3 linked regions of the Homo sapiens genome follow. The protein of the gene in region 2 purifies or fractionates together with the protein of the main gene of each other region. This does not show direct contact. Each region holds a gene or a part of one and is shown on either strand. Other genes may lie near its edges.

Region 1 (3,652 bases), on a different chromosome or scaffold from region 2:
TTATGTTTATACTATAGTCTAGTCTTTTAAGTGTGCAATAGCATTATGTCTAAAAACAAAGTACCTATCTTAATTAAAAATTATTGCTAAAGAATGCTAGCAATCACCTGAACCTTCAGCGAGTCATCATCTTTTTGCTGGTGGAGCCTTGATGTTGCCTTGATGTCGATGGCTGCTAACTGATCAGGATGGTGGTTGCTGAAGGTTCGGGTGGCTGTAGCAGTGTATTACAGTAAGACAGCAATAGAATTTGCTGCATTGATTGACTCTTTCATGAAAGATTTCTCTGTATGTAGCATGTGATGCTGTTTAATAGCATTTTACCCACAGTAGACCTTCTTTCAAAATTGGAATCAGTTGTCTTAAACCCTGCAACTGCTTTATCAATTAAGCTTATGTAATATTTCAAATCTATCATAACAATATTCACAGCATCTTCACCATGGGCAGATTCTGTCTCAAGAAACCACTTTCTTTGCTCATCCATAAGAAGCAACTCTTCATCCATTTGGGTTTTATCGTGAGATTGCAGTAATTCAGTCATCTTCAGGCTCCACTTTTCTCATTCTCTTGCCATTCTACCACATTTGCGTTACTTCCTCCACTAAAGCATTGAACCCCTCCAAGTCGTCCATGAGGGGTGGAATCAGCTTCTTCCAAACTCCTATTAATGTTGATATTCTGCCCTCCTCTCATGAATCACAGATTTTTTTTGTTTGTTTTTTGTTTTTTTGTTTTTTTGAGACGGAGTCCAGCTCTGTTGCCCCGTCTGGAGTGCAGTGGCACAATCTCGGCTCACTGCAACCCCCACCTCCTGGGTTCAAGTAATTCTGCTGCCTCAGCGTCCCGAGTAGCTGGGATTACAGGTGCCCGCCACCGTGCCCAGCTAATGTTTATATTTTTAGTAGAGACAGGGTTTACCATATTGGCCGGGCTGGTCTCAAACTCCTGACCTCAGATGATCTGCCTGCCTCAGCCTCCCAAAGTGCTGGGATTACAGGTGTGAGCCACCACAGCGGGCCAAATCACAGATGTTCTTAATGACATCTAGAATGGTGAATTCTTTCCAGAAGGTTTTCAATTTACTTTGCCCAGATCCATCAGAGGAATGGCAGAGGAAGCCTATGGCAGCTATAGCCTTATGAAATGTATTTTTAAATAAGACTTTAAAGTCAAAGTTCCACCTTGATCCATGGGCTGCAGAATGGTTGTTGTGTTAGCAGCCATGAAAACAACTTTAATCTTGTACATCTCCATCAGAGCTCTTGCGTGACCTAGGTGCATTATCAATGAGCGGTGATATTTTGAAAGGAATCTTTTTTTTTTTTTTTTTTGAGCAGTAAGTCTCAACGCTGGGCTTAAAATATTCCGTAAGCCATGTTATAGACAGATGTGCTCTCATTCAGGCTTGGTTCTTCCATTTCGAGAGTACAGGCAGAGTAGACTTACCATCATTCTTAAGAACCCTAGGGTTTCCAAACGGTAAATGAACATTGGCCCAACTGAAAGTCACCAGGCACGTTAGACCTTAGTGAGAGTCGGCCTGTCCTGATGCTTTGAATCCAGGCATTACTTCTCCTTTTTAGCAGTAGAAGTCCTGGATAGCATCTTCTTTCAACACAGGGCTATTTTATCTACACTAAAAATCTGTTGTCTAGTGTACCCATCTTTATTAATGATTTTAGCTAGATTTTCTGGAGAACTTAATGCAGCTTCTCCATCAGCACTTGCTGCTTCACCTTGCACTTTTATGTTATGGAGACGCCTTCTTTCCCTAAACCTCATGAACCAACTTCTTCCAGTTTCCACCTCTTCCTCTGCAGCTTTCTTGCCTCTGTCAGCCTTCATAGAATTGAAGAGAGTTAGGGCCTTGCTCTGGGTTAGGCTTTGGCTTAAGGATCTGTCACTGTGGCTAGTTTGATCTTCTGTCCAGGCCACTAAAACTTTCTTCATATCAGCAATACGGTTGTTTCACTTTCTTACCATTCATCTGTTTATAGAGTGGCACTTTTAATTTCCTTCAAGAACTTTTCCTTTGCATCCACAGCCTGGCTAAGTGTTTGATTTGAGAGGCTGGATTTTGGCCTGTTTTGGCTTTGGGCCTGCCTTCCTCCCTAAGCTTAATCATTTCTAGCTTTTGATTTAAAGTGAGAGACATGCAATTCTTCTTTTACTTGGACACTTAAAGGCCATTGTAGGGTTCTCAATTGGCCTAATTTCAATATTGTTGTGTCACAGAGAATAGGGAGAACTGAGAAGGAGAGAGATGGGGGAATGGCCAGTTCATGGAGCAGTCAAAACACACACATTTATTAATTGAGTTTACCATCTTATAAGAGTGTTGTTCCTGGCACCCCAAAACAATTACAAAAGTAACATCAAACGTCACTGAGCACAGATCACCGTAACAGATGTAGTAATCATGAAATCATTTGAAATATTTGAGAATTACCAAAATGTGACACAGAGACATGACGTGAGCACATGCTGCTGGGAAGATGCTGACACACCTGCCAGATGCAGGATTGCCGTGAACCTTCAGTCTAAAATAATCACAATATCTGCAAAGCGCAATAAAACAAGGTATGCCTATATCCTTAATAGCTGGTAGTCCAGACTGCCCTCTGGAATCTTCTGTTAAACACACAACATACTGAAAGGTAGCATTTTTTATTACTTTCATTCAGGAAAGGGGTGGGGCAAAGCATCTCGAGTAAGTAAAAATGGTTTCATTGAACTTTAAACAGCAGTATTTAATCCTGAGCATTCTGGCACATTGGCGTCTGTTTATTTAACAGGTGTACATGGACACCCTCTCAGTGTGCCAGGCCGTGTTGCGTGTGGCAGACTGTGCGAGGGGAACTAACTGTCCTGTTCTGAAATGGAACAACGAGGGGCTTCATGGATTTGGAGAGAAGTACAGTTTAGGGTCCAAGGACCTTTTGCTTTTAAATATTACACTCTTCTTCAAATAATCTGAATTTAAACCGCTTAGGGCTCTCTTTTAAACCACCATTGGGGTCAAGTAAGACATATTCTGGGGAACCAGACTCATTTACCTAACCATGTCCCACTTCTGTATATGTGTGTGTATGTGTGTGTGTTTGCATATATATATACACACACATATACACACACGTATGTATATGTTTGTATTTCAGGTGAAAGTCACATAAAATTGGCCATTTTAAAGTGTATGTTTCAGTGGCATTTAGTACATTCACAGTGTTGTACGGTCACCACCTCTATCTGGTTCCAGAACATTTTTATCACCCCAAAAGGAAAATCCTCTGCCCATTACATAGGTACTCCCCATTGCCAGTCTGTTTCTGTCTCAATGGATTTACCTCTTCTGGATATTTCATATGCATAGAATCATACAATATGTAACCTTTCGTGTTTGGCTTCCCACTTGCTTTTAAGAAAACTAGCTCACCCCAGAAGAGGAACTTAGCAGAAACGAGCTCCACAATGGGGTCTCGAGTAGGAGTCCCCTGCAGCCTGTTGCTCTGATTGTGGCTTCCCCTGTTGTTTCTCCTTTGGTTTGCTGGTCAGTCTCTTCTCCTTTTTCTCTTACCCAGTGAATTGAGCTTTGCTTATTTTGACTTTGTCCATCTGTTATTGATAAGAGCCTCCACACTTGAAATTGATG
Region 2 (3,652 bases):
CATTTGTATATCTTCTTTAGAGAAAAGCCTGTTTGGAGCCTTTGCCCATTATTATTATTATTGTTATTATTTTTTTTTTTTAGACGGAGTACCACTTTGATGCCCAGGCTGCAGTGCAGTGTAGTGCAGTGGCGCCACCTCGGCTCACTGAAATCTCCACCTCCCGGGTTCAAGCAATTCTCATGCTGCGCAGCCTCCTGAGTAGCTGGGATTACAGGCATGTGCCACCATGCCACCAATCCAAAAAAGAAAATAATTTTTGTATTTTTAGTAGAGACAGGGTTTCACTATGTTGTCTAGGCTGATCTCGAACTCCTGACCTCAGGTGATCCTCCTGCCTCAGCCTCCCTAAGTGCTGGGATTACAGGCATGAGCCACCACGCCCTGCCCCTTTGTCCTTTTTTTTTTTTTTTTTTTTTTTGAGGCGGATTTTGCTCTTGTTGTCCCGGCTGGAGTGCACTGGTGCAATCTCAGCTTACCGCAACCTCCGCCTCCTGGGTTCAAGCAATTCTCCTGTCTCAGCCTCCTGAGTAGCTGGGATTACAGGCATGTGCCACCAAGCTTGGCTAATTTTGTATTTTTAGTAGAGACAGGGTTTCTCCATGTTGGTCAGGCTGGTCTCGAACTCCCGACCTCAGATGATCCACCTGCCTCGGCCTCCCAAAGTGCTGGGATTACAGGTGTGAGCCACCATGCCCAGCCGCCCATTTTTAAATTGTTTGTTTGTTTGCTTGTTTATTACTGAGTTGTAATAGTTCTTTATAAATTCCAGATACAAGTCCCTTATCAGATATATGATTTGCAAACATTTTTTCCCATTCTATGGGTTATCTCTTAACTTTCAAAAGTTTTATGGCTAAAACACAAAACTCTTAAACTTAGTTGAAGTCCAGTTTATTTCTTCATTGGTTGTTTGTGCCTTTCATTATATTGAAGAAAGCTTTGCCTAATCTAAGGTTATGAGAATTTAGTTTTTCTTTTAAAAAAAAGTTTTATTACTGTAGCTCTTGTAATAAACTATAATTTTTTGTTTTTTTGTTGTTTTGAGACAGGATCTCACTCTGTTACCCAAGCTGGAGTGCAGTGGTGCAATCTCGGCTCACTGCAACCTCCGCCCCACTGGCTTAAGCAATCCTTCCACCTCAGCTTCCCAAGTAGCTGGGACCACGGGTGCACACCACCATGCCCGGCTTTCTTTTTTTTTTTTTTTTTTTGTATTTTTAGTAGAGATGAGGTCTCGCCATGTTGCCCAGGCTAGACCTGAACTCCCGAGCTGAAGAGATCTGCCCACCTCAGCCTCCCAAAGTGCTAGGTTTATAGGCATGAGCCACCATGCCTAGCCATATAATTTATTTAGAGTTAATTTTTGTATATGCTGTGAGGAAAGCATACAACTTCATTCTTTTGTATTGGATATTCAGTGGTCCTAGCATTTAATGTTTGTTTTTATTATTATTATTATTATTTTTTGAGACAGAGTCTTGCTCTGTCACCCAGGCTGAGGTACAGCAGCACAATCACAGCTTACTGCAGCCTTGACCTCCCAGGCTCAAGCAACGCTCCCACCTCAGCCTCCCAAGTTGCTGGAACTACATATGTGCCCCACCACCCTGGTTAATAATATTTTTTTTAGAGATGAGATCTCACTATGTTGCCTAGGCTGGTCTGGAACTCCTGGGTTCAAGCGATCCTCCTACATCACCCTCCCAAAGTACTGGAATTACAAGCATGAGCCACCACGCCTGGCCCAACATTTGTCGTTAAGACTATTTTCCCTCCACAGAACTGTCTTGCCACCTTTGCTGAAAATCAGTTCACCATATATATAAGAGTGTATTTCTGGACTCTCAGTTCTATTCTGTTGATCTCTGTGTCTGTGTTTTGTTTGTTTGTTTGTTTGTTTTTTAAGAGGTGGAGTCTCGCTCTGTTGCCCAGGCTGGAGTGTAGTGGCGTGATCTCGGCTCACTGCAACCTCCGCCTCCCGGGTTCTAGCAATTCTCCTGCCTCAGCCTTCCGAGTAGCTGTGACTATAGTTGCATGCCGCCACACTCGGCTAATTTTTTGTATTTTTAGTAGAGACGGGGTTTCACCATGTTGCTTATGCTGGTCTCAAACTCCTGAGTTCAGGCAATCCACCCACCTTGGCCTCCCAAAGTGCTGGGATTACAGGCATGAGCCACTGTGCCCGGCCTGTGTCGGTCTTTATGCCAGTACCACATTGTATTGATTACTGTAGCTTTGTGATAATATATTTTGAGATAGAGATGTGTCAGTCCTGCAAGTTTTTTTTTTTTCAAGATTGTTTTTGCTATTCTGGGTTCCTTGAATTTTCATATGAATTTTAGGACCAGCTTGTCAGTTTCTCCAAAAAAAAAAAAAAAAAAAGCCAGCTGGAATTAAGAATCTATAGATCAATGTCAGAAGTGTTGTCATCTTAACAATATCAAGTCTTCCAATCCATGAACATGGGATGTCTTTCCATTTGTTTAGGGCTTCTTTAATTTCTTTCAACAATGTCATGATCTTCTTGGGGAACCTGAAGCCCAGTAGGTGCTCCAGTCCTGTGGGCTGACCAGCTTGACCAGCTAAGCCTCTTATCCTGGAGGAAGTCCCAGGACTGGCTTCTTCTTGGCTACCTTGTCCTCCAAATGGAGAGTATGAGGAGATCTTCATAACCTTCACTTCTCTGAGATTCTGTGGAATTATTTCTCTGCAGCTTCATGAGCTAGAGCAAATATCATGGTTTTTAAGAGCAGAAGTAACTTTTTAAGTTAAAAAGTCATGGAAGCAAATTTATTATTGCACTACTTAGGAGGTGTGCATGGGACTAATTGTAGAAAAGAAATATTTGTCATTTTTGAAAATGAGGTATTAAACACTATGATTAACTGAAATTTGATATTCAGAAAAGTATCACTTGTGTTTTTCCAGAACGCATAAAAATGATTCATAAAACACAGTTCCTACCAGGCAACCTTTGTCAGGGCCATTTTGCTCAAAATTTGGTGTTTTTTTGTTGTTGTTGTTGTTGTTTGTGTGTGTGTATACATGTGTATACAGTCATTTTTCAATCTGTTCTTCTAACCTTTACTTTTTTTTTTTTTTTTTTTGAGACGGAGTCTCGCTCTGTCACACAGCTTGGAATACAGTGGCCCGATCTTGGCTCACTGCAAGCTCTGCCTCCCAGGTTCACGCCATTCTCCTGCCTCAGCCTCCCGAGTAGCTGGGACTACAGGCGCCTGCCACCATGCCCGGCTAATTTTTTGTATTTTTAGTAGAGATGGCATTTCACCGTGTTAGCCAGGATGGTCTCAATCTCCTGACCCTGTGATCCACCCGCCTCAGCCTCCCAAAGTGCTGGGATTAGAGGCGTGAGCCACTGCGCCCGGCCAACCTTTACTTTTAAAGAAAAAGCACTAGGAAAGACTATATTAAAAAAAAAAAACAACCTGAAAAAGAGCAAAGTTGCTTATGCTGGGTTTTCTGTGATAAAATAGTTAATGTTTTGGGTCATATTAATGCAGCTAGCTACTTACCTTTAAAAAAAACTTTTTATTTTGGAATTATTTTAGCTTTATAGAAAAGTCCGAGAGGCAGTACAGAGTCCCTATAGATCTTCCCCACCCCCAGCTTCCCCTCATGTTAACATCTC
Region 3 (3,652 bases), on a different chromosome or scaffold from region 2:
GGTCTCACTCTATCACACAGGCTGGGGTGCAGAGGCGTGATCTTGGCTCACTGCAACCTCTGCCTCCCAGGCTCAAAGCAATTGTCCCACCTTAGCCTCCTGAGTAGCTGGTACTACAGGTGTGTGTCACCACGCCTGGCTAATTTTTGTAGAGACAGGGTTTTGCCATGTAGCCCAGGCTGGTCTCGAACTCTTGGACTTAAGCAATCTGCTCACCGCAGCTTCCCAAAGTGCTGGGATTACAGGTGTGAGGCACCATGCACAGCCTAGAAATATCTATTCATTATAAATTTCCCAGTCTGTGGTATCTGTTATAGCAGCACAAAACATTTAGTAAAAAGGTTTTTTTGGTCACACATGGCCATGAGGCACTTGGCTTAGCAAACCTCCATAATGCAGGGCCTCAGGTGTAGAAGGCTGTGGGCAGCAGCACTGTACCTGCTGTGCTCCTGCCTGCATCTTACCAACCACCATAACATTTTCAATGTTTCTGTTTTTTAAAATGGGTTGCTGATTCTTCCCAAGAACAGGCTTCTTGCACTCAACATTTCTCAGTTGTTCATTACCTCACACAGTTAAGTTCTCTATTAAAAAAGAATGAAATGGGACTTTCCAATTTCCTGTCCAGCTTGTAAAGGCTCAGAAGTCATCACTCCCATCCTCACAACAAGAAAGCTGGCAAACTTAAAATCAATGACTGTTCTCAGATCCATCAGATAATTGAGGTCACATGAAAAAACAATAACCCCAAAGATGGAGAGACAGATATGCAATGCTAAGAATCACAGCTCATTGCGGGGCAGAAACCCTAGAGCCAGCACCAGCAGAGAGGAAAGGGGAACTGACAAATGGCAGAGACTGAGCATGGACCAGTAGGAGACAAAAACTCCAGGGGAATAGTCACTGGGGAGGTCCCCATACCAGTCTGAGTTTTACCTCCATGAGCCCCACCAGGCTCTCAGGGTGAGACTGGAGAAACATCTCCTCATACTCTGGTAGGAGGAGGGAAGAATACATCATTTAAAAGTATAACCAGGCCAGGTGTGGTGGCTCATGCCCATAATCCCAGGACTTTGGATGGCCAAGGCGGCAGGTTTGCTTGAGGCCAGGAGTTTGAGACCAGCCTGGGAAACATGGTGAGACCCTATCTCTACAACAAGAACAACAACAGCAACAACAACAACAAAATAGTTGGGCACGGCAGTGTGCCTGTGGTGCCAGCTACTCAGGAGGCTGAGATGGGAGGATCATTTGAGCCCAGGAGGTTGAGGCTGCAGTGAGTCATGATGGTGCCACTGCACTCCAGTTTCCCAACCAACATATAAAGGGCTCAGAGGTCATCTCAAAAAAAAAAAAAAAAAAAGAAAGAAAGAAAGAAAAAGGCATGACCAGAGCATTCTGTTATCCTTAACAAAGGGCTTTCCTCAAGGAAAACTATTTTACCAGAGCCTAACCACCTAGGGGTAAGGAAACACCCAATTCCTGCCTCCTCTATCGTTTATGTCTCTCCTAAGGGGGAGGAAAAAAACAAAACTGAGAAGCACATGTGAAGGCCACGGCCCAGGGACACAGGTTCACTAAAACACTGAGACCTAATCCCAGGACTACAGAACACTTCCTCTCCCCTGAAAGCCACATCAACAGGACCCCTGTGTAATAACAGGGATGCACACCTATAAGAACTGCAGGCCTCAGACTCTATTTAAGAAGGAATCTTGAAGAAAACCCAAAAACAATGGAAGACAAAAACAAGGATACACAGGAGATTTTTATCCCCCAGCATCACAAGGGCAGCAAACAGTAAACACAGCCCAACTCCCAGCCAGCCAAACGTACCTCACACTAAGGCCTATTAACCTGACGCCTAAGTTCCTCATATCAGAACCAGACTCAGACATAGTGGAGATTTTGGAACTACCAGATTGGGAATTTAAAACAACTACGATTAATATGGTAATGGCTCTAACGGAAAAAGTAGACATCATGTAAGAACAGATAGGCAGCATAAGCAGAGATGGAAACCCTAAGCAACAATCAGTAGGAAATGCCAGAAAGCAAAAGTCCTGTAACAGCAATGGGGACTGCCTTCAACAAGCTCAAGAGGCTGGACACAGCCAAGGAGAGACTCTCTGAGCTTAAGAATACGTCAACAGAAACTTCCAAACATGAAAAGCAAAGGGAAAAAAGAACGAAAGAAAGAAAACAGAATATGCAAGAACTGTGGGACAGTTACAAAAAGTGTAACATATGTGCAATGAGGATATCAAGAGAAAGAAAAGAACACAATAACTATTTGGAGTAATGAGAGCTGAGAAGTTCCCCAAACTAATGTCAGACACCCATCCACAGATCCAATAAGGTCAGAGAACATGAAACGGTAAAAAGCAGGTAATTTACACTGAGGCAAATCACATCAAACTGCAGAAATCAAAGACAAAAAGAAAATTAGAAAGGAAGATTCTCTCTTTGCAGAAATCTGGGAATTTTTTCCACAGGAAAAAAACATCCTACCTATAAAATGGCAAGAACAAGAATGACACTGGATTTCTCTTCAGGAACCATCCAAGCAAGAAGAGAGAGGAGGGAACTATTTGATTCTGTATCCAGTGAAATTATCCTTCAAAAGTGAAAGAGAAATAAAGATTTTTATCAGAAAAACAAAAACTCAGGGATTTAACATTTCAAGAAAAGTTAAAAGAACTTCTTCAGAGAGAATGAAAATGATTTGGTCAGAAACTCTGATCTATGTAAAGAAGGGGAAAAGCATCAGAGAAGAAATAAATGTAGGTAAAATTAATCTTTTATTTTTCTTATTTTAATTGCTCTAACACATTAACAATTTGTTCAAAATAAAATTTGTGTATTGGGTGACTGTAGCCTAAGGATAAATGAAATAAATGACAGCAATGTTATAAGCAGTGGGAGGAGTGAACTGGGAATACTTGGTTACAAGGTATTTGCACTACCTGTGAAGCAGCACAGCATTATTTGAAAGTGGATTTTGATTAGTTGTGAATGTATATTGCAAACCCTAAGGCAACCACTAAAATAAATATATATATATACACACATACACATTTTTGAGACAGGGTCTTGCTCTGTTGCCCAGGCTGGAGTGCAGTGGCACAATCACAGCTCACTGCAGCCTCAACCTCCCAGGCTGAAGCGATCCTCCCACTAGTAGATGAGACTACACGCACATGCCACCAGGCCCAGCTAATTTTTGTATTTTTTGTAGAGACAGACGGGGTTTTGCCATGTTGCCCAGGCTGGTCTCGAACTCCTGAGCTCAATCAATCCGCCCGCCTCGGCCTTCAAAAGTGCTGGGAATACAGGCATGAGCCACCGCACCCAGCCTGTATTTTTTGTTTTTTCTTTCTTTCTTTCTTTTTTTTTTTTTTAACAGACAGGGTTTCGCCACATTGCCTAGGCTAGTCTCAAACTCCTAGGCTCAAGTGATCCTCCTGCCTTGGCCTCCCAAAGTGCTGGGATTACAGGCATGAGCCACCATGCCTGGCCAAAACTTTTAAACAAAAAATCAGCAAATTGAATCCAATAATGTATTAATAATTATACACCACGACCAGGCAGGATTTATCCCAGGTGTGCAAGGCTAATTCAATGTTCAAATATCAATCGTAGCGGGGGCAGT

The links.
Region 1: the proteins of FLYWCH2 (region 2) and RTF2 fractionate together in Homo sapiens (co-fractionation; one large-scale study listed by BioGRID). This does not show direct contact.
Region 3: the proteins of FLYWCH2 (region 2) and CCM2 purify together in Homo sapiens (co-immunoprecipitation; one large-scale study listed by IntAct). This does not show direct contact.

Annotation. Positions count from the first base shown.
Region 1 is NC_000020.11:56,478,503-56,482,154, forward strand, and holds part of RTF2 (replication termination factor 2), read left to right. Parts: intron 1-3,652. UniProt on the Homo sapiens protein: Replication termination factor which is a component of the elongating replisome. Required for ATR pathway signaling upon DNA damage and has a positive activity during DNA replication.
Region 2 is NC_000016.10:2,886,119-2,889,770, forward strand, and holds part of FLYWCH2 (FLYWCH family member 2), read left to right. Parts: intron 1-3,652.
Region 3 is NC_000007.14:45,059,168-45,062,819, reverse strand, and holds part of CCM2 (cerebral cavernous malformations 2 protein), read right to left. Parts: intron 1-3,652. UniProt on the Homo sapiens protein: Component of the CCM signaling pathway which is a crucial regulator of heart and vessel formation and integrity. May act through the stabilization of endothelial cell junctions. May function as a scaffold protein for MAP2K3-MAP3K3 signaling.